3 linked regions of the Homo sapiens genome follow. The protein of the gene in region 3 interacts with the protein of the main gene of each other region in a pairwise test. Each region holds a gene or a part of one and is shown on either strand. Other genes may lie near its edges.

Region 1 (7,028 bases), on a different chromosome or scaffold from region 3:
TGAGCCATACCGTGCCTAGCCAAGGGAATCTTAATTGTTTCTTTTATTTCATGTACCCTGTTCCTTTTCTTTTGTACCCAGAAGTACTCTGTGGCCTATATATATTTTTTCTTTTTTAAAAAAAACTTTACTGTGGAAAATTTCAAACATATACAAAGTAAACAGAATAATATGATGAACCCTCTTGTACTCATCACCTTGCTTTAACATGTTACTACTCTTTTTACCTTTTTTTTTTTTTTTTTTTTGAGACACAGTCTCGCTATGTCGCCCAGGCTGGAGTGCAGTGGCACAATCTCGGCTCAAGTGATTCTCGTGCCTCAGCCTCTGACATAGCTGGGATTACAGATGTGTGTCTCCACACCCATCTAATTTTTGTATTTTTATTAATAGTAGAGATGGGGTTTCACCATGTTGGCCAAGCTGGTCTTGAACTCCTGGCCTCAAGTGATCTGCCTGCCTTGGCCTCCCAAAGTGCTGGAATTACAGCCGTGAGCCACCACACCTAGCCCTCTTTTATTATTTTTACTTCTACCTATTCCCCATCCTCTAATCAATAATTTTTTTTTTAGGTAAAATTCATATACAATGAGATGCAAAAATAAGCTGTTACAGTTACAACCACGTAGCAGACCTATCATAGTATAATACATTTTTATCTCCCTACAAAGTTCCCTTATATACCTTCCAAGTCATCCCCTGCCCCACCAGGAAACCATTGTTCTCTTTGGCTCTGCCTGTTTTAGACTGTCATATAAACAGAACCATGCATTACACATTCTTTGTGTCCGGCTTTTTTTGTCGAGCATTATATCTGTGAGATTCATCCGTGTTGCATTCCTTTGTTTCACTGAGTAGTCCATTGTATGGATATACCATGGTTTGTACATCCGTTCTCTTACTCATGAACATTTAGGTTCTTTCCAGTTTTTATTTTTTTGTTGTTGTTGTTGTTCTTTTTTTTTTTTTTTTTTTTTTTTGAGACAGAGTCTTGCTTTGTTGCCCAGGCTGGAGTGCAGTGCCACGATCTCGGCTCACTGCACCTCTGCCTCCTGAGGTCAAGTGATTCTCCTGCCTCAGCCTCCCAAGTATCTGGGACCACAGGCATGCGCCACCACACCCAGCTAATTTTTGTAATTTTGGTAGAGACAGGGTTTCACCATGTTGGCCAGGCTGGTCTCAAACTCCTGACCTCAGGTGATCCACCCGCCTCGGCCTCCCGAAGTGCTGGGATTACAGGCGTGAGCACCTGGCCTAGTTTTTGCTTTTATGCTGTGAACATTTATAACAAGTCTTGGGTGGACTTACATTTTCATTTTTCTTGGATAAGTACCAATGGGTGGAATTGCTGGGTCAATAGATGCATGGTTAATTTAATTTAATTTTTTTAATTAATTTTTTTTTTTTGAGATGGAGTTTCGCCTTTGTTGCCCAGGCTGGAGTGCAGTGGCACCATCTCGGCTCACTACAACCTCCACCTCCCGGGTTCAAGCAGTTCTCCTGCCTCAGCCTCTTGAGTAGCTGGGATTACAGGCATGCGCCACCACTCCCAGCTAGGTTTGTATTTTTAGTAGAGACAGGGTTTCGCCATGTTGGTCAGGCGGGTTTCCACCTCCGGACCTCAGGTGATCCGCCCACCTCGGCCTCCCAAATTGCTGGGATTACAGGCATGAGCCACTGTGCCTGACTGCATGTTTAATTTTATAAAAAACTGCCAAACCTTTTCCTAAACTGTTTTATGTCATTGTACATTGCTACTGACAAAAGGATGAGAGTGTGGTTTTACATTCCCACTGACAAAGGATGGGTATGTGTCTTTGGTTTGCAAGTTTAGATAAACTGATAGATACAAAAAGCTTTTTCTTAGAGGAAATGGCTTGTAGGAACATCTCAATATTAGTTGTTATTCCACAGAATGTAAGATGACCTTGAAATATATACTCGTTATTGATTTGTCCTTTTCACGTGGCTTCTAAGGAATTGTAGAAGTTATTTTAGTCCTTATAGTAAATCAGCTGATATGGTTATATAGATAGTATAGTTGTTGCCTTTCTGAGAATGAAGACGTTACTGAATGTCCTAGATTTATACATTTTAGAACTCTGTTTATAATTTCCACAGTCCTTTTAGGAACCCCTGTCTATGATTCCTAGAAACATTCTCTTTAACACTTAGTGGTTTTAGCAGTGAATATCTGTCATCACCCACACTGTTGTGGTCAGGGGGATATCACAGCAGGTAATCTAAATGGAATTCTTGGGATGAAACTCCACCAAGGTGAGTAATGTTTATGGCTTTCCAAAGCATTGCAGTTAAATCATTCAGCAATAAACCTGCGTTTGCACCATTGCCAGGTATTAATGTGAGTCATTTGTTTTATTTTAGTGATGTCCTTGCATTGCCCATTTTTAAGCAAGAAGAGTCGAGTTTGCCTCCTGATAATGAGAATAAAATCCTGCCTTTTCAATATGTGCTTTGTGCTGCTACCTCTCCAGCAGTGAAACTCCATGATGAAACCCTAACGTATCTCAATCAAGGTTAGATGCTTCCTCATTCATTAGTACTATTGCAGACCTACTGTATTTATGATTTTTTTGTTTGTTTGTTTGTTTTGAGACGGCGTCACCCAGGCTGGAGTGTAGTGGCGCCATCTTGGCTCACTGCAAGCTCTGCCTCCCGGGTTCACACCATTCTCCTGCCTCAGCCTCCTGAGTAGCTGGGACCACAGGCACCCGCCACCACACCCGGCTAATTTTTTTGTATTTTTAGTAGAGATAGGGTTTCATCGTGTTAGCCAGGATGGTCTCGATCTCCTGACCTCATGATCCGCCTGCCTTGGCCTCCCAAAGTGCTGGGATTACAGGCGTGAGCCACCGTGCCCGGCCATTTATGATGTTTTATTAGGTACACTTATATGTAAAAACTTAGATCTTTCTAGTGTGGCCTATCAAACTAGAAGTCCTACTTCAGAGATTTGAGTTCTAATGTCATACTTGATATCTATTACTAGCTTCTTTTGCTTAGCTGTCCATTTTTAGTGTCCAGCTTCCTCTTCCTAATCATATTCCCTAGACACTCCCATTGGTTACTGTCTGAGAAGTATTACTCTACCTGGCTCTATTATTTACCAATTGTGTGGCCTTGGACAAGTTGCTAAAACTCTTTTAAGTTTCAATTTCTTTGTCTGTAAAATGGGATTGATAATACCTTAGAAAAGTATATCAGTTAAATGAGATAATGTGACAATACTTAGCACAGTGCTGAGCATCTTGTAAAGGCTTCTGATTGTTGTTACTAATACTAATAATATTATTATACTGTTGTATATTCAACCAACTGAATTTTATTCTTTCCGAATCTAGCAAAGTTAATTTGTGGTGAATATAATATGTAATTACTTTTTCTTCTAGGACAGTCTTATGAAATTCGAATGCTAGACAATAGGAAACTTGGAGAACTTCCAGAAATTAATGGCAAATTGGTGAAGGTAAAACGAATAAATCATTCTTCTGTACAATATTTTTTACTAATCCTTTTGGGATTTTAAATTTTGTTGTTGTTGTTAATGTTCTTTTGCTTCCAATGGCTTAATGGTATCTCTTGCCTGCAGTAATTTGTTGGCAGAGTAGTAAGCTGATGTGTTATTTCTTTGGGGTCAGAGTAAGCCCCAGTATTCACATGAATTTTTCAGAGCTGCAGAAATAGAACGCTTACCACTCCCTGTCCAGGGTAATCACCCCTGGCTCAGTGAAGTTCTTTTGGGTGGAGTAAAGTAACCTCCTTGAGATCTTTAGAGAAGCCTCAGTGTCTTTTTTGATACTTAGTCTTATAGCAAGGAAAACAGAAGCTACTTTGATGAAGAGCAGTTCTCTTAGTCTAGATTAACAGTTAGGATTTTGATAATTCACAGCACAGTTGAAACAGAGGAGTTTTGTCAAAAGGTGGTGGGAGGAATTAATAGGCACTTCTACAAAGTAAGAGTAACAAAAGGAAAGTTGATGGAAACAGGCTCTACCTACCCTCAGTGTTTACAGGTTGTATGGTGGGTTAGCAAGCGGGGGAGTTGGTGAGTTTTTCATATACATCTGAAGAGCTAAGCCAGATAGGCCGTGGTATAACAGAAGAGGTGTGCAGAAACGCTTCAGACAGGAGTACTTTATTCCTAGTTACCATCGGACTGAAGTTTAAGCCAAGTTTTAAATATGGTACCAGTTAACTATAAAGATTCTATCTGAGAAATTGGCTGGACCCGGTGGCTCACGCCTATAGTCCCAGCACTTTGAGAGGCTGAGGCGGGCGGGTCGCCTGAGGTTGGGAGTTTGAGACCAGCCTGACCAACATGGAGAAACCCTGTCTCTACAAAAAATACAAAATTAGTCAGGCGTGGTAGCACATGCCTGTAATCCCAGCTACTCAGGAGGCTGAGGCAGGAGAATTCCTTGAACCCGGGAGGTGGAGGTTGCGGTGAGCCGAGATCACACCATTGCACTCCAACCTGGGCAACAAGAGCAAAATCTGTTTCAAAAAAAAAAAAAAAGATTATATCTGAGAAATTATAAAATTTTATCCTGAAATAGCACTTAGTATGGTATGGGTTTTAGAGTGAAACAGATCTTAAGAAAAATAATTTTAGATTGCGTTTAGAAACAAACTGGCAGTGAATCCTGCTAGTTTTTCTTTGTCAGCACTGATTTTCAAGAGGTCTTGTTATCATCTGATTTTGTTGTATCCTTTTAGAGTATATTCCGTGTGGTGTTCCATGACAGAAGGCTTCAGTACACTGAGCATCAGCAGCTAGAGGGCTGGAGGTGGAACCGACCTGGAGACAGAATTCTTGACATAGGTGAGTTAAGAGAATCTATTGCCTAGGAAATGCCTTTAGCTATGGACCCAGAGTTGGTTTTCTTTATTTGACATTTACCTTGATTCATATGCTTGAGAGGCTCAATTAGTATAAACCTTGAAATTATTTACTAAGCATAAAAAATTTTAAGTAATACAAGTTAAAATGATATCAAAATTGAAGTTGGAAGTGTAAACACTTTAGTTCCATAGCAACTATAGGTTGATTTTGTTGTTTTTTAAGTTGTGGTAAAATATACATTACATAAAAGTTATCATTTTAACCATTTTTAAGTGGATAGTTCAGTAACATTAGGTACATTCACATTATTGTGTAACCATCACTATCATCCATCTCCAGAACTTTTCTCATCTGCAAAACCAGAAGTCTGTACCTGTTAAACAACAACTCCCCATTCTCCCTTCTTCACAGCCCCTGGTAACCACTATTCTCCTTTCTGTCTCTATGAATTGGACTACTAAGTACTGCATAAATGAAATCATACAGTATTTGTCCTTTTGTGACTGGCATTTTTCACTTAGCATAATGTTTTCAAGGTTCATGGTATAGCATACATTAGCATTTCCTTCCCATGCAAGGCTGAATAATACTCCATTGTGTGTATATATCACACTTTGTTTATCCATTCATCCCATGATAGGCACTTAATTTGATTCCATTTCCTGGCTATTGTGAATAATGCTGCTATGAACATGGATGTACAAATATGTGTTTGAGTCTCTGCTTTTAATTCTTTTGGATACATATCCAGAAATGGAATTGCTGGGTCATATGGTAACTCTATCTTAGATTTTTTTTAGAAACCACTATATTGTTTTCCACAGTGACTACACATTTTACATTTCTACCAGCGGTACTCAAAGGTTCCAATTTCGGCCGGGCGCGATGGCTCACGCCTGTAATCCCAAAACTTTGGGAGGCCAAGGTGGGCAGAACATGAGGTCAGGAAATCGAGACCATCCTGGCTAACATGGTGAAACCCCGTCTCCACTCAAAATACAAAGAAATTAGCTGGGCGTGGTGGCGGGCGCCTGTAGTCCCAGCTACCCAGGAGGCTGAGGCAGGAGAATGGTGTGAACCCGGGAGGCGGAGCTTGCAGTGAGCCAAGACCACGCCACTGCACTCCAGCCTGGGTGACAGAGCGAGACTCTCTCAAAAAAAAAAAAAAAAAAAAGGTTCCAATTTCTCCAATCCTTGTCAACACTTGTTGCTTTCCTTTTTTTTTTTTTCCTGAGATGGAGTTTCGCTCTTGTTGCCCAGGCTGGAGTGCAATGGCGCGATATCAACTCACCACAACCTCTCCCTCCCAGGTTCAAGTGATTCTCCTGCCTCAGCCTCCAAGTAGCTGGGATTACAGGCATGCACCACCACACCTAGCTAATTTTTGTATTTTTGGTAGAGACGGGGTTTCACCATGTTGGCCAGGGTAGTCTCAATCTCTTGACCTCTTGATCTGCCCGCCTCGGCCTCCCAAAGTGCTGGGATTACAAGCGTGAGCCACCACACCTGGCCTGTTGCTTTCTATTTTTTGATAATATCCATCCTGATGGTTGTGAAGTAGTATCTCATTGTGGTTTTGATTTGCATTTCCCTGGTGATAAGTGATGTCAAGCATCTTTGCATGTGCTTATTGGCCATTTATATATTTTCTTTCTTTCTTTATTTTTATTTATTTATTTATTTATTTTTGAGATGGAGTCTCCCTCTGTCGCCCAGGCTGGAGTGCAGTGGCATGATCTTGGCTTACTACAACTTCCACCTCCCGGGTTCAAGCGATTTTCCTGCCTCAGCCTCCTGAGTAGCTGGGATTACAGGTGCCCGCCACCACACCCAGCTAATTTTTGTGTTTTAGTAGAGACAGGGTTTTGCCATGTTGGCCAGGCTGGTCTTGAACTCCTGACCTCAGGTGATCCACCCGCCTTGGCCTCCCAAAGCGCTGGGATTACAGGTGTGAGCCAAGGCTCCCGGCCCATCATTTATATATTTTCTTTGGAGAAATGTCTGTTCAAGTCTTTTGCCCACTATCGAATTGGATTGTTTTGTTTTTTTTGTTATTGAGTTGAAAGAATTTTTAAAATATTCTGGATATTAACCCCATAGCAGATATATCACATGCAAATCTTTTCTGTTATTGTGTGGGTTGCTTTTTTACTGTGTTGATACT
Region 2 (7,028 bases), on a different chromosome or scaffold from region 3:
TGACCTATCTTTCCCAAATGATGTAAATGCTCCTGTCAGTTTCTGCTGCAGTAAAATAGCTCTTCCTTTATTCACAGAAAGGGAATAAGTTACATGGACTCCTTAGATTTATTATTTAAAGCATGATGGACCATTATGCTGATTCTGTTTTTAATGTTTATTTCACTTTGGAATTAGTCTTGTTCCCCGGGAAATCATTTCCTGGCTTCTAAGTTGACAGTTCTCTGTTATTTGTTGTGCCTGAAAAGTTTGGTACAACCAGGCTAACAGAGGCAGTTAGTGCAGATGATGATGTCAAAAATCTCTTTATAGGCTGAGCATGGTGGCTCACACCTGGAATCCCAGCATTTTGGGAGGCCAAGGTGGGATTGCTTGAGTCCAGGAGTTCGAGACCAGCCTGGGCAACATGGTCTCTACAAAAAAAAAAAAAAAAAATTAGCTGGGCATGGTGGTGTCCATCTGTGGTCCCATCTACTTGGGAGGCTGAGATGGGAGGATCACTTGAGCCCAGGAGGTCAAGGCTGCCGTGAGCTGTGACCACATCAGTGCACTCCAGGCTGGATGACAGAGTGAGACCCTGTCTCAAAAAAAAAATGAAAAGGTCTTTATAGTCATTTTTCATAACCCAACCTACCCCTAAAATCAGGGTGAATACCCAGAGAACACCTAAAGAAAGGAGTATGCAGTTGGGCCGGGCGCGGTTGCTCACACCTGTAATCCCAGCACTTTGGGAGGCTTAGGCGGGTGGATCACGAGGTCAGGAGATCGAGACCATCCTGTCTAACACTGTGAAACCCCATCTCTACTAAAAAATAATACAAAAAATTAGCTGGGCTTGGTGGTGGGCGCCTGTAGTTCCAGCTACTCAGGAGGCGGAGGCAGGAGAGTCGCTTGAATCCGGGAGTTGCAGGTTGTAGTGAGCCGAGATCGTGCCACTGCACTCCAGTCTGGGTGATGGAGCGAGATTCCGTCTCAAGAAAAAAATAAAAAAAAAGAAAGGAGTATACAGTCATGGAACTGTCACACAGAGCCAGTTCCATTTGCCAAGTACAAGATATCGAATCAATGTATTTTTGTGGCTTGGCATGGTGGTTCACACCTGTAATCCCAGCACTTTGGGAGGCTGAGGCTGGCGGGTCATTTGAGACCAGGAATTCGAGACCAGCCTGGCCAACAAGGAAAAACCCCATCTCTACTAAAAACACAAAAATTAGGCAGGCGTGATGACATGCACCTGTAATCCCAGCTGCTTGGGAGGCTGAGGCAGGAGAATCACTTGAACCCAGGAGGCGGAAGTTGCAGTGAGCCGAGATCACGCCACTGCACTCCAGCCTGGGTGACAGAGTGAGACTCGGCCTCAAAAATAAAAATAAAAATGACAAAAAAAAAGGTATTTTTGTGATCAATTCTTTCATTTGGATTTAGGTGAGCGACCTGTGAGAGTTTATGCCGATGGAATATTTGACTTATTTCACTCTGGTCACGCCCGAGCTCTGATGCAAGCGAAGAACCTTTTCCCTAATACGTACCTCATTGTGGGAGGTAAGAAAACATTTGGTGACTTCAGGTGCTGTGCAGAAAAAGATGATAGTACAGTCTGTCTTTCTCAGCTGAGTACACTGGCTCTTGTTTCCATTTTTAAATGAAGGATGTAGTACAGCCTCTCTAACACACATGAAGTATATGGGTACCAGCAAACTAAACCTGGAGAGAGGAGCTTCAAGCTCCTCGACTGTGCCATCTGGCATTTATTCACTGCTTGTAGCTGAGTTTCTGTGGTCACAGGAGCAGCCGTGACTTCCGTTGTCCACTTTAAAACATTTGCTTTAGATTTCAGTTTATCATTTTGAATTAACTGGAGTACAAAAGTCTGCCAAGGAAATGTTAGGTGGTCCAGTCCAGTGTGAATAAAACAGGAAAACATGTTTAAGGACTTAATTGATGCAGACACGCACAGCAGGTTTATTTCAGAGTCAAAGATCTTGGTCACCTGTTGTACTGTCCCTTCTCCAAAGTATGAACATACTGTTTAGTGAGTGTTGCTCCTGAAGGTATACGCTGCATTAGGAAAAGCGTTATCACCCAGGTTCAACCACCTTTAGAAGACTTTTTTCCAGTTGGGGAAGATGGTTGCAGTCCTAAGCAGTGGGAGAAGATGGGAGAGGTCGGTGGCTGAGGAGGTGCTAAGCAAAGAGGACTCCAACACACAATTTATGATGTGGTGAACCAGTTTGCAGTGATGAGCTCACACACAACTTCAAAGGCTTCACGGTGATGAACGAGAATGAGCGCTATGACGCAGTCCAGCACTGCCGCTACGTGGATGAGGTGGTGAGGAATGCGCCCTGGACGCTGACACCCGAGTTCCTGGCCGAACACCGGGTAAGAAACTGGACACATATTCCCATTCCTTGTTTCAGAATCCCCTCAACTCTCAAAGCTGCTGGCACGTAGGCTGGTTTTCCACTAGCCGTGTTTTACTTCTACCTCTTATGTAAGTTTCGTAGGAGATGACAGTGATATTACTAGTGATAACAGTCACCCCTGACGTTTATATGGGGCTGGATGGTTTGCAAGCACTTTTACATCCATTCTATTCCATTTTCTGCCCACAGCAATCCTGTGGTGTGTTTGTCATTTCCGCTTTACATATGAGTAACAAGGGCTAGAGAAACCAAATAACCTGCTCCAAGTTACACCATTGGCAGGGCTGGGAACTGAACTCGCCACAAGTTACACCACTGGCAGGGCTGGGAACTGAACTCGCCACAAGTTACACCACTGGCAGGGCTGGGAACTGAACTCGCCACAAGTTACACCACTGGCAGGGCTGGGAACTGAACTCGCCACAAATTACACCACTGGCAGGGCTGGGAACTGAACTCGCCACAAGTTACACCACTGGCAGGGCTGGGAACTGAACTCACCAGTTACGAGACCTTCCCCCCACACCATAGGCACATCTACCCTTAGAACATGCCAGTCTCCTGAGAATATCCATAGCCCCAGGTGAACTCTGAAGACGGTCACATTACCAGGAAATAAGACGGATTAACATAGACTTTTCTTGGCTTAAGTTTCATTTCAGGGCTTTGATCTTATGCTAGAAATTGGGTGGAATCAGAAATCAAGGATATTTCTCACTGTTTCTCAGTAAGTTATTATCAACCCCTTACCTCCTTTTAATTCTCCCACATTAAAGTAACAGATTTCAGCCAGGTGCAGTGGCTCACGCCTGTAATCCAAGCACTTTGGGAGGCCAAGGTGGGAGGATCGCTTGAGCCCAGGAGCTCAAGACCAGCCTGGGCAACATACCGAGACCCTGTCTCTACTTTAAAAAAAAAAAAGCCACAGGTTTCCTGCAAAAGGTGGGTACAAAAGATGAGAAGGATTGATTAGGCCAGGTTAGAGGCCCCCAAGCCTGAGGAAATAGCAAGCATGTTGTCAGTTCTCTACAGGGGCGCGTGGAATGTTGTAGGTAAATTGTTCAGTGAGGCAGAAAGAATGAAGGCAGCCAAAGTGCTTCTAAAGCAATACGTGGGTAGGCCTGAAGAGGGGATATTTATTAAAACTATTGAGGATTAGGACAGACCTTTTATAATTCTCTGGCTTTTCTACATCAACACCTAGCAGCCAGTGGCACCAAAGGTGGTAAGCAAGTTTATTCTCAGCACCACAGCCCACAGGCCCAGACAGAAGTATGAAGTTAGAGGAATTTCTAACTCCCCTTTTCTCTTTGTTAACAATATATACTCAACCTTGAGTTTTGCTTGTCCCATTCTTTTTTTTTTTTTTTTTGAGACAGAGTTTTGCTCTGTTGCCCAGGCTGGAGTGCAATGGCGTGATCTCGGATCACCGCAACCTCCGCCTCCCGGGTTCAAGTGATTCGCCTGCCTCAGCCTCCCGAGTAGCTGGGATTACAGGTGCGCGCCACCATGCCCGGCTAATTTCTTGTATTTTTAGTAGAGGCAGTGTTTCGCCGTTTTGGCCAGGCTGGTCTTGAACTCCTGACCTCAGGTGATCCACCCGGCCTCCTATTCTTTACTTTGCTGCCTATGGATCCCTGACAAGTTGTTCATGAGTAATTGAGATGCTGGCTGAGAGTCTCTGACATAGTCCCAATGAACATGCTTCACACTACAGTGGTCTCTCGGGGATGGTATAGTGATCTTAGTAATTATCAGCAAAAGGCTGGTGGCCCATACAGGAAGGAGTAAGTGAAGTTTAGCACGCCTCCGAACAACATTATTGATCCCCAGTATCATTCATCTCTTCTTGCCCTTGCAAAGGATATTCATAGCAGTAAAATGGCCAGGCGCTGTGGCTCACGCCTGTAATCCCAGCACTTTGGGAGGCCAAGTCAGGTGGATCACTTGAGGTCAGGAGTTCGTGACCAGCCTGGCCAACACGGTGAAACCCTGTCTACTAAAAATGCAAAGATTAACCAGGCGGGGTGACATGCGCCTGTAGTCCCAGCTACTCGGGAGGCTGAGGCAGGAGAATCGCTTGAATCCAGGAGGCAGAGGTTTCAGTGAGCCGAGACTGTGCCACTACACTCCAGCCTGGGCGACAGAGCGAGACTCGGTCTCAAAAAAAAAAAAAAAAGTAGTGAAATGATAGATCCTGAGGATAAAACTTCTTTTATTTATTTATGTATTTTTATTGATCATTCTTGGGTGTTTCTCGCAGAGGGGGATTTGGCAGGGTCATAGGACAATAGTGGACGGAAGGTCAGCAGATAAACAAGTGAACAAAGGTCTCTGGTTTTCCTAGGCAGAGGGCCCTGCGGCCTTCTGCAGTGTTTGTGTCCCTGGGTACTTGAGATTAGGGAGTGGTGATGACTCTTAACGAGCATGCTGCCTTCAAGCATCTGTTTAACAAAGCACATCTTGCACCGCCCTTAATCCATTTAACCCTGAGTGGACACAGCACATGTTTCAGAGAGCACAGGGTTGGGGGTAAGGTCACAGATCAACAGGATCCCAAGGCAGAAGAATTTTTCTTAGTACAGAACAAAATTGAGTCTCCCATGTCTACTTCTTTCTACACAGACACAGCAACAATCTGATTTTTCTATCTTTTCCCCACATTTCCCCCTTTTCTATTCGACAAAACCGCCATCGTCATCATGGCCCGTTCTCAATGAGCTGTTGGGTACACCTCCCAGACGGGGTGGTGGCCGGGCAGAGGGGCTCCTCACCTCCCAGTAGGGGCGGCCGGGCAGAGGCGCCCCTCACCTCCCGGACGGGGTGGCTGCCGGGCGGAGACGCTCCTCACTTCCCAGACCGGGTCGCGGCCGGGCAGAGGAGCTCCTCACATCCCAAACGGGGCGGCGGGGCAGTGGCGCTCCCCACATCTCAGACGATGGGCGGCCGGGCAGAGACGCTCCTCACTTCCTAGACGGGATGGCGGCGGGGAGGAGGCGCTCCTCACTTCCCAGACTGGGCAGCCGGGCAGAGGGGCTCCTCACATCCCAGACGATGGGCGGCCAGGCAGAGACGCTCCTCACATCCCAGACGGGGTCGTGGCCGGGCAGAGGCGCTCCTCACCTCCAAGACTGGGTGGCGGTCGGGCAGAGACACTCCTCAGTTCCCAGACGGGGTCGTGGCCTGGCAGAGGCGCTCCTCACATCCCAGATGGGGCGGCGGGGCAGAGGCGCTCCCCACATCTCAGACGATGGGCGGCCGGGAAGAGGCGCTCCTCACTTCCCAGACTGGGCGGCCGGGCAGAGGGGCTCCTCACATCCCAGACGATGGGCGGCCAGGCAGAGACGCTCCTCACTTCCCAGACGGGGTGGCGGCCGGGCAGAGGCTGCAGTCTCAGCACTTTGGGAGGCCAAGGCAGGCGGCTGGGAGGTGGAGGTTGTAGCGAGCCGAGATCACGCCACTGCACTCCAGCCTGGGCAGCATTGAGCACTGAGTGAACGAGACTCCGTCTGCAATCCCGGCACCTCGGGAGGCCGAGGCTGGCGGATCACTCGCGGTTAGGAGCTGGAGACCAGCCCGGCCAACACAGCAAAACCCTGTCTCCACCAAAAAAATACGAAAACCAGTCAGGCGTGGCGGCGTGCGCCTGCAATGGCAGGCACTGGGCAGGCTGAGGCAGGAGAATCAGGCAGGGAGGTTGCAGTGAGCAGAGATGGCGGCAGTACAGTCCAGCTTCCGCTCGGCATCAGAGGGAGACCATAGAAAGAGAGGGAGAGGGAGACCGTGGGGAGAGGGAGAGGGGAGAGGGGAGAAGGGAGAGGGGAGAGGGAGAAAACTTCTCTTATGGCCTTCGGTTTGTATTTCTCAGGCCAATAGATGTATCTATTCCAGTCAGAGGGCTCGTGGTTGCTATTTTTATATTCCCTCTTTTCTCACGGACTGAGAGAAACTAGTTAAGAAAGAAGTAACCTCTTTCTCATACTTTTTTTTTTTTTGAGACAGAGTCTTGCTTTGTCACCCAGGCTGGAGTGCAGTGGTGCGATTTTGGCTCACTGTAGCCTCTGCCTCCTGGGTTCAAGCAATTCTCCTGCCTCAGCCTCCCAAGTAGCTGGGACTACAAGCGCCCGCCACCATGCCTGGCTAATTTTTTTGTATTTTTAGTAGAGACGGGGTTTCACCATGTTAGCCACGTTAGTCTTGAACTCCTGACCTCGTGATCTGCCCGCCTTGGCCTCCCAAAGTGCTGGGATTACAGGCATGAGCCACCGTGCCTGGCCTTTCTCATACTTTTAGAAACCCTTATTTGACCAAATCCTTCCAGACCCAGGACAGGGAGATTTCCTTCTTTCCTAGGCTCCACCCACTAACCGGTTCACCAGCAAACCCTCTGGCCCTATTGACCACAGCAAGATGACTGGTATACAGAGTGAGGGTAACAGTTCTAGCAGACTAGGAGAAATAGCTACAAAAGCAGCTGGCTAACTTCATATGTATACTCCATAAATCATTAGGTTGGGTGGTTTGTGAATAGATTGTAGAATTTATGAGCAAAGCAAAGAGAGATATGAAGTCCACTGAGGCCTGGCCTCTGCCTATTGTCCT
Region 3 (6,621 bases):
AGCCGAAAGCCACCCCCGACCCCCCTCCACCCTGCCCCCAGCACAATGCTGCGAGGCTCTCCCACGTTGCACCAGCTGGCCAAGGGGGCTCCCAGAGGTCATCTCGTCCAAGCCCCTGTCTGCTGGTGGGCCTGCAGGGAGCCTCTGCGACCTCTCTCGTGACCAACAGCAAGTCTGAGGGGCACCTGTTTAGAGCCCAGGCCCAGCTCTGCAATGAAAGCAGAAAAGAGACAAAGCAAGATGGGAGGACTGTGGGGGCTTAGCAAGGGGGACTAACATAGCCTGGAAAGAGGGCGGGGCACTGGACCTAGGGGCTGAGGACTTAGATTCCAGGCAGAGGATGCAGAGGTTGAGCAAAGGCTGAGAGGTGACAGGGAAATGATGAATTGGGAAGTCAGAGCCCAGATGATAAGGCCTTGACCGCCAGCTCCCCTATGCCCTTGTCCCTGGCAGGGTATCCTCAGGTCCGAGCCCCTGGACAGCAGCCCCAGGCCCAGCTGGCCATGGCCCTGTGCCTGAAGCAGGTGTTCGCCAAGGACAAGACGTTCCGGCCGCGGAAGCGCTTTGAGCCGGGCACACAGCGCTTTGAGCTGTACAAGAAGGCACAGGCCTCTCTCAAGTCGGGCCTGGACCTGCGCAGTGTGGTGAGGCTACCACCCGGGGAGAACATCGACGACTGGATCGCCGTGCACGTGGTGGACTTCTTCAACCGCATCAACCTCATCTACGGCACTATGGCGGAGCGCTGCAGTGAGACCAGCTGCCCGGTCATGGCCGGCGGGCCCCGCTACGAGTACCGCTGGCAGGACGAGCGCCAGTACCGGCGGCCCGCCAAGCTCTCTGCGCCGCGCTATATGGCATTGCTCATGGACTGGATCGAAGGCCTCATCAACGACGAAGAGGTCTTTCCCACGCGTGTTGGTGAGTGTCACCTGGCGGGGAGGGAGCCACTGGGAGCCCATTCCACAGATGAGGATTTAGTTTGATATAGACACTCTGCAGGGTTGGGGGTTGATTTTCATCCCCATTTTGTGGAAGAGGAAAGCGAGGTTGAAACAGGTTAAGTGCCTTGCTCAAGGTCAAGCATTTGCTAGGACTTCCTGACTCCCAATTTGGGGCTTTTCTTTCTTTTCTTTTTCTTTCTTTCTTTCTTTTTTTTTTTTTTTCTTTTCTGAGACAGAGTTTCGGTCTTTCACCCAGTGGTGAGATCTCAGCTTACTGCAACCTCTGCCCCCCGGGTTCAAGCGATTCTCCTGCCTCAGCCTTCTGAGTAGCTGGGATTATAGGCACCCACCACCACGCCTGGCTAATTTTTGTATTTTTAGTAGAGACAGGGTTTCACCACATTGGCCAGGCTGATCTCGAACACCTGACCTCAGGTGATCCACCCACCTCAGAGGGCTTTTCTTTTCTAAAGCATAAGTGGTCCCACCAAGGACCACTCTGGCAAGACCACAGATGCTGTGATTCTCAGAACCTTCCAGAACAGTTGCCCCGAGGTGTTCATAGCTGATTTGACCTCCAGCCTCCCGGGGTTCCCTCTGACTCCTGGCCTCAGGAAAAGGAGGGAGTTGGTGGTTGGGTGGGCCCTGGTGGTATCATCACCTCAGATTGGGGCTCTGAGGACAGAATTTTCCCTTGCCAGGCACAGGCTGTGGGGCCTTTTCTTATCTCAGCTGGGCAGCCTGGGCGGGTGAGGGTAGGGAGGGGAGATGAGTGATGTCACCCAGGCACTGCTTACCCACCCGAGGGCAGCAGGAGGGGGTTGTTGGTCCAGGAGCTGAGCAGGCATGACACTGTGTTCATCACACCAGCCGCACCTGTAGCTGGGCCCAGCCCCCACCTGGCCTGGAGCTCATCTCTGCAGAGGCTGTGTGGATCAGCGGTGGGTGGGGCAGGGTGGTCAAGCCCTGAGGGGAGAAGTCTGAATGCTGAAGGAAGCTGGGCACTGAGTCACAATTCAATGCCCACGGCTCCTCCCCAGCCAGTGGCCTGCTGTTTCTTGCACTGTCATGCCCGACAAGGAGCACCTTCATTTTACATAGGAGGAAACTTGAGGCTACTGAGGGAAAGTGCACTGAACTGGGAGGAATTCCGAACTGGGGCTCAGATCTGTGGGAGCCCAGGACCCCAAGTCTACATGGGCAGGATATGTCTGAGGAATCTGGGCTGGGCTGGAGGGGCTCAGAGGGAGGGAAGGCTCGACCCCACCTGGGAATGGTGAGGAAGAGGAGGGGGTCTACAGAGCCGGGTGGGCCAGCTGTGGACCTGAATGTAGATTCATAGTCCCTGCTGGCCATACCTCCCTGGGCCTGTGGGACTCCAGGTATCGATGCCTAAAACCCTGGGTGACTGCCACACAGAGAAGAGGGCATAAGCCACCAAGATCTCTGCCTTGAGCATGGGGGACTATGCAGAAGCGGGGCCTTTTTCATGGGTCCCAATATCTGTGAGGGTCGCTGCAGTGCACTGCAAAGAGGGTCTGAATCCAGTCTCCATTCTGCACTGATTAATACTTATGTGGCCTTGGGCTAGCAGCTTCACCTTTATAAGCACTTCTGTTTTATCATATCTAAAGTGACAATCAGACACATCAGGCGAATTGTTCTAAGGATTAGAGGCAAAAGGTGTGAAGGGCCCAGCACAAGGCCTTGCTCATAAATGGAAGGTTCTTCGTGTTGTTGAATATTTGAAGGAATGAGGGCTGTCTGAACTAACTCTTGCAGAATTCATAATTTCCAGGATTGGGGGTCTGAGGACTTCTGTGTGAATGTTGAAAAGAGGAGGGACATGGGGTGGGGCTAGAGAGGGAGGTCAGGATAAGATCATGAAAGGCCTTGAGCAGCGTCCTGCTGGAAAGTTAGGACTTAATCCTGAAGGCCCAGGGATTTTTTAAATGGACCCAGTTGTTGAACTCTCCTTGGAGTTGTATACAAGAGTGTGATGTGAGCATCTCTGCAATTGCACATATTTCTGGGGAGAGTTTAGGTCGTAACTTTTATCATAGTCTAAAAAGGGTTGGTCAGTGACCCCCACAAGTTTGCAAAGCCCTGCTTTAGGTAATGGGAAAATGTGGAAGATGATGTATATTCCAGCAGGGGAGAGCCACAGTCAGATTTGTGCTTCATTAGAAAGAAAAGTATGGCCAGGCACAGTGGCTCATGCCTGTAATCCCAGCATTTAGGAGGACGAGGCAGGTGGATCACCTGAGGTCAGGAGTTCAAGACCAGCCTGACCAACATGGAGAAACCCTGTCTCTACTAAAAATACAAAATTAGCTGGGCATGATGGCACATGTCTGTAATCCCAGCTACTTGGGAGGCTGAGGCAGGAGAATACCTTGAACCTGGGAGGTGGAGGTTGCAGTGAGCCGAGATCATGCCATTGCACTTGCCTGGGCAAGAGTGAAACTCCGTCTCAAAAAGGAAAGAAAAAAAGAAAGGAAGAAAGAAAGAAAAGTATGGGAGAAAGTCAAACCACTCTCTGTTTTCCAAAGGGAAGTGTACTAAAAAGTGTGCTGGGGAAAAAGCCATCCTGGTTGCCTGTGTGTGGGAGGGAAAAGTTGAGCAGAGCTTTGGCACCAGGATACTGATCCCCTTCTGCCCTCCCCTGCCCTCTAGGAGTTCCCTTCCCTAAGAACTTCCAGCAGGTCTGCACCAAGATCCTGACCCGCCTCTTCCGAGTCTTTGTCCATGTCTACATCCACCACTTCGATAGCATCCTCAGCATGGGGGCAGAGGCGCACGTCAACACCTGCTACAAGCACTTCTACTACTTCATCCGCGAGTTCAGTCTGGTGGACCAGCGGGAGCTGGAGCCACTGGTGAGGCCAAGCCCTACCACCCTCCCCTACCAAGGCTAGCCTCTGAGTTTTCACGTCCAAAAGCTGCCTGCTTTAAGTAACTCCAACGCCCAAGTAGATGAATTAGGGGAAGGCAATTCATTTAACAGTGAATTCTGTACTTCAATAGAGAATTCATTCAAGTGTTGGTTTACAAACCCAGATCTGCAGCCTAAGAGTTGGGGTTGCTGGGGGAAGGCCAGGCTCAGACAGAAGAGCAGCTAGGCCCTATGGTTTGGGAAGGGATTGCCTAGTAGGCTGAGCTCTAATTGACCCCTCCCTACCTTGTGTCTCTACAGAGGGAGATGACAGAGCGGATCTGCCACTGAGCCCAGGTCTGGACTTTTTTGGCCATCAGATGGACGATCTGAACATAGGGTGGCTGGCAGAGGGGACCCCCAGGAGCCTGAAGGAATCTGAAGGCACTGGAATCACTCCACACACCCAAAGCCTCTGGACTTCTGGTTCTCAGGAGTCTGCCTACCTGTCGCCCTGACCGCTTGTGGATGGAGAAGGGGAGAGCATCTAGGCAGGCAAACAGAAGGGAAGTGGAGTTAAACCTCTGGCATGAAGTCTGGGAGTAGGGTAGGCTAGGGGGTTTCTTCTATGACACTTGACCCTTCCATGCTGGTTCCCAAGCCTATTGGAGGAATGTGGGTGTGGCCGAGGTGATGGCAAGAAAGGTGCAAGAAAGTGAGCAGTCTGCCTGTGAGTGAGCACAGATGCCGGGGTGTGTGTGTGTGTGTGTGATTTTCACTGTGGGGTGTGTCTGTGAGAGCTAGCTGCCTTACCCCTCCTTGGCACATAGTAGGCCTTCCATAAATGTTGGATGGATGGATAAATAGATTGGGACCATCAGACCATGGGACCATCAGACCATGACCACTGTAGGAGTGATGACAGCTCAGCGTCCCCACTCAGTGTATCTGACCATGTGTGTAAGTGCACAAAAATGTGGTTGTAGATGTTGCTCTACATTCAAACCTTCCAGGCTACACTCTTCCATCAGCATGAGTCCTGGAGAGCTGGGGGAACGTAGGAAGAGGAGCCTTGCCTTGAGTTCCTAAACCGACCCACTGCAGACACAGGCTCTGATTCTCTTACCCAGAGATGCCCATGAGCTGACATTTTACTCATCCCTCTGCCTCCAAGAAGGCCTGTATTATACGTGTCCTCCTGGGGGTTGGAGATGATCCCTCAAGTACACAAAGGTCCCCTGGCCCTTCATCTGGGAATCATATACTCCACTCTAGCTCCCAGAATCTACAGACCTGGCTCCTCGGATCTGAAGCCCAGCACAAAATAATCTCCCCGTCCAAGGAGCTTGTGGAACTTGAATTGGGAACTTTGGAGTCTTGTCTCCCATCCCAGCACATTGAGGATGTAGTTGGTGAATGGACTCTTCCAGGCATGGAGATCCTCCATCCTAAAAGTACCTGCCTCCTTCCCAGCCATCCCTGACACATTCCAGCCAGTTGGATCTCACAGCACAGCTATCCACAGGGAGACTGGGATGTTCACGCAGCACTCCATTACTCAGTACCTCCATACCCAGCCCTATACGCAGACCCACAGGTGGGGAAACTGAGGCAGGAACAGGGTTCTGCCCTCCCAGAGCCTCCACTCTGGGATGCCAGAATGGAAAGCCAGAGGGAACCTGAGAATCATCCAGTCTTACTGTCTCAATGTACATACGGGGAAACTGAAGCCAGGAGAAGAAGAGGGAGAAACTGTCCAGGGCCTCACAGGGAGGCATTCATGGAGCTGGAGAAACCAGGGATCCTGACCGCAGGGCCCATCAATTGCTACATAGAGATACACATGGAAAGAGGGTTTAACAGACCCTCTCTAGGACACAACTGTTTCTGCTTTGAGCAATAATTTCTAACCTGAGGCCAACATGTCCCACTGCCCCTTGGGTTGGCTGGGGTTGTTTCCTGAGCCAAGCATCCAATATCATGCCCCACTCAATGGCCTAGAAGCTGCCTGTACTTTGGGGAAACAGATGGAGCTCTTGGGCCCAGCCAGCTGGGCCTGGGACTTCTGCCTCTGCCGCCTCCAGAGTGGCCTGGCAGCTTTGCCAGAGGCTGTGGAGCGAGGGTAGTAGGAGCTTTTCCCAGAGTGCTGTGACTTGCATGATGGATTCTAGGCTGTGGCAAGGGCTGATTTCTGGGATAGGGGGAGGGTTGGAAAATTTATTTTTATGAAACAGAGGGAAGACTTTATTGTTGTTATTTTTGGTAAAATAAAAGGCAAACTAAAGCAGCCACTGGTGGGAAGCGGTGATCTGGGTGCCACATGGCTCTTGGCAGACCATGGAAGGAACTGAGCCAGAATGGGGCTGGGAAGGCTTTTTGTCCTGAGATACTGGACCATGTGGAGGGCTGGCTGGTGTGGTCATGTCTGGCCCAGCTCTCTAGGGTGGGGACACAAAGATTCTCCTGGGGCTCTGGAAATTCTAGACCGAGCTAGGCTAGGACGCTTGGGGTGGAGAAGCCTGGCTTTTCTTTGCCTTCCGGGAACTCAGTCTGATAGGAATCGTTCCTTGTTTCATCTCAGGTTGCCTGGCATTGGCTATTCTTTTTTTTCTTTTTCTTTTTTTTTTTTTTTTTGAGATGGAGTCTTGCTCTGTCACCCAGGTTGGAGTGCAGTGGCGCGATCTTGGCTCACTGCAAGCTCCGCCTCCTGGGTTCATGCCATTCTCCTGCCTCAGCCTCCGGAGTAGCTGGGACTACAGGCACCCACCACCACGCCCAGCTAATTTTTTTGTATTTTTAGTA

What was found.
Region 1: the proteins of MOB3C (region 3) and TFCP2 interact in binary tests that used the Homo sapiens proteins (3 or more experiments, as listed by UniProt).
Region 2: the proteins of MOB3C (region 3) and PCYT1A interact in binary tests that used the Homo sapiens proteins (3 or more experiments, as listed by UniProt).

The regions. Positions count from the first base shown.
Region 1 is NC_000012.12:51,114,130-51,121,157, reverse strand, and holds part of TFCP2 (alpha-globin transcription factor CP2), read left to right. Parts: intron 1-2,385; coding exon 2,386-2,537; intron 2,538-3,410; coding exon 3,411-3,487; intron 3,488-4,737; coding exon 4,738-4,843; intron 4,844-7,028.
Region 2 is NC_000003.12:196,242,721-196,249,748, reverse strand, and holds part of PCYT1A (choline-phosphate cytidylyltransferase A), read left to right. Parts: intron 1-1,425; coding exon 1,426-1,542; intron 1,543-2,230; coding exon 2,231-2,382; intron 2,383-7,028. UniProt on the Homo sapiens protein: Catalyzes the key rate-limiting step in the CDP-choline pathway for phosphatidylcholine biosynthesis.
Region 3 is NC_000001.11:46,607,204-46,613,824, reverse strand, and holds the end of MOB3C (MOB kinase activator 3C), read left to right. Parts: intron 1-453; 5' UTR 454-503; coding exon 504-921; intron 922-3,620; coding exon 3,621-3,823; intron 3,824-4,140; coding exon 4,141-4,170; 3' UTR 4,171-6,106; downstream 6,107-6,621. UniProt on the Homo sapiens protein: May regulate the activity of kinases.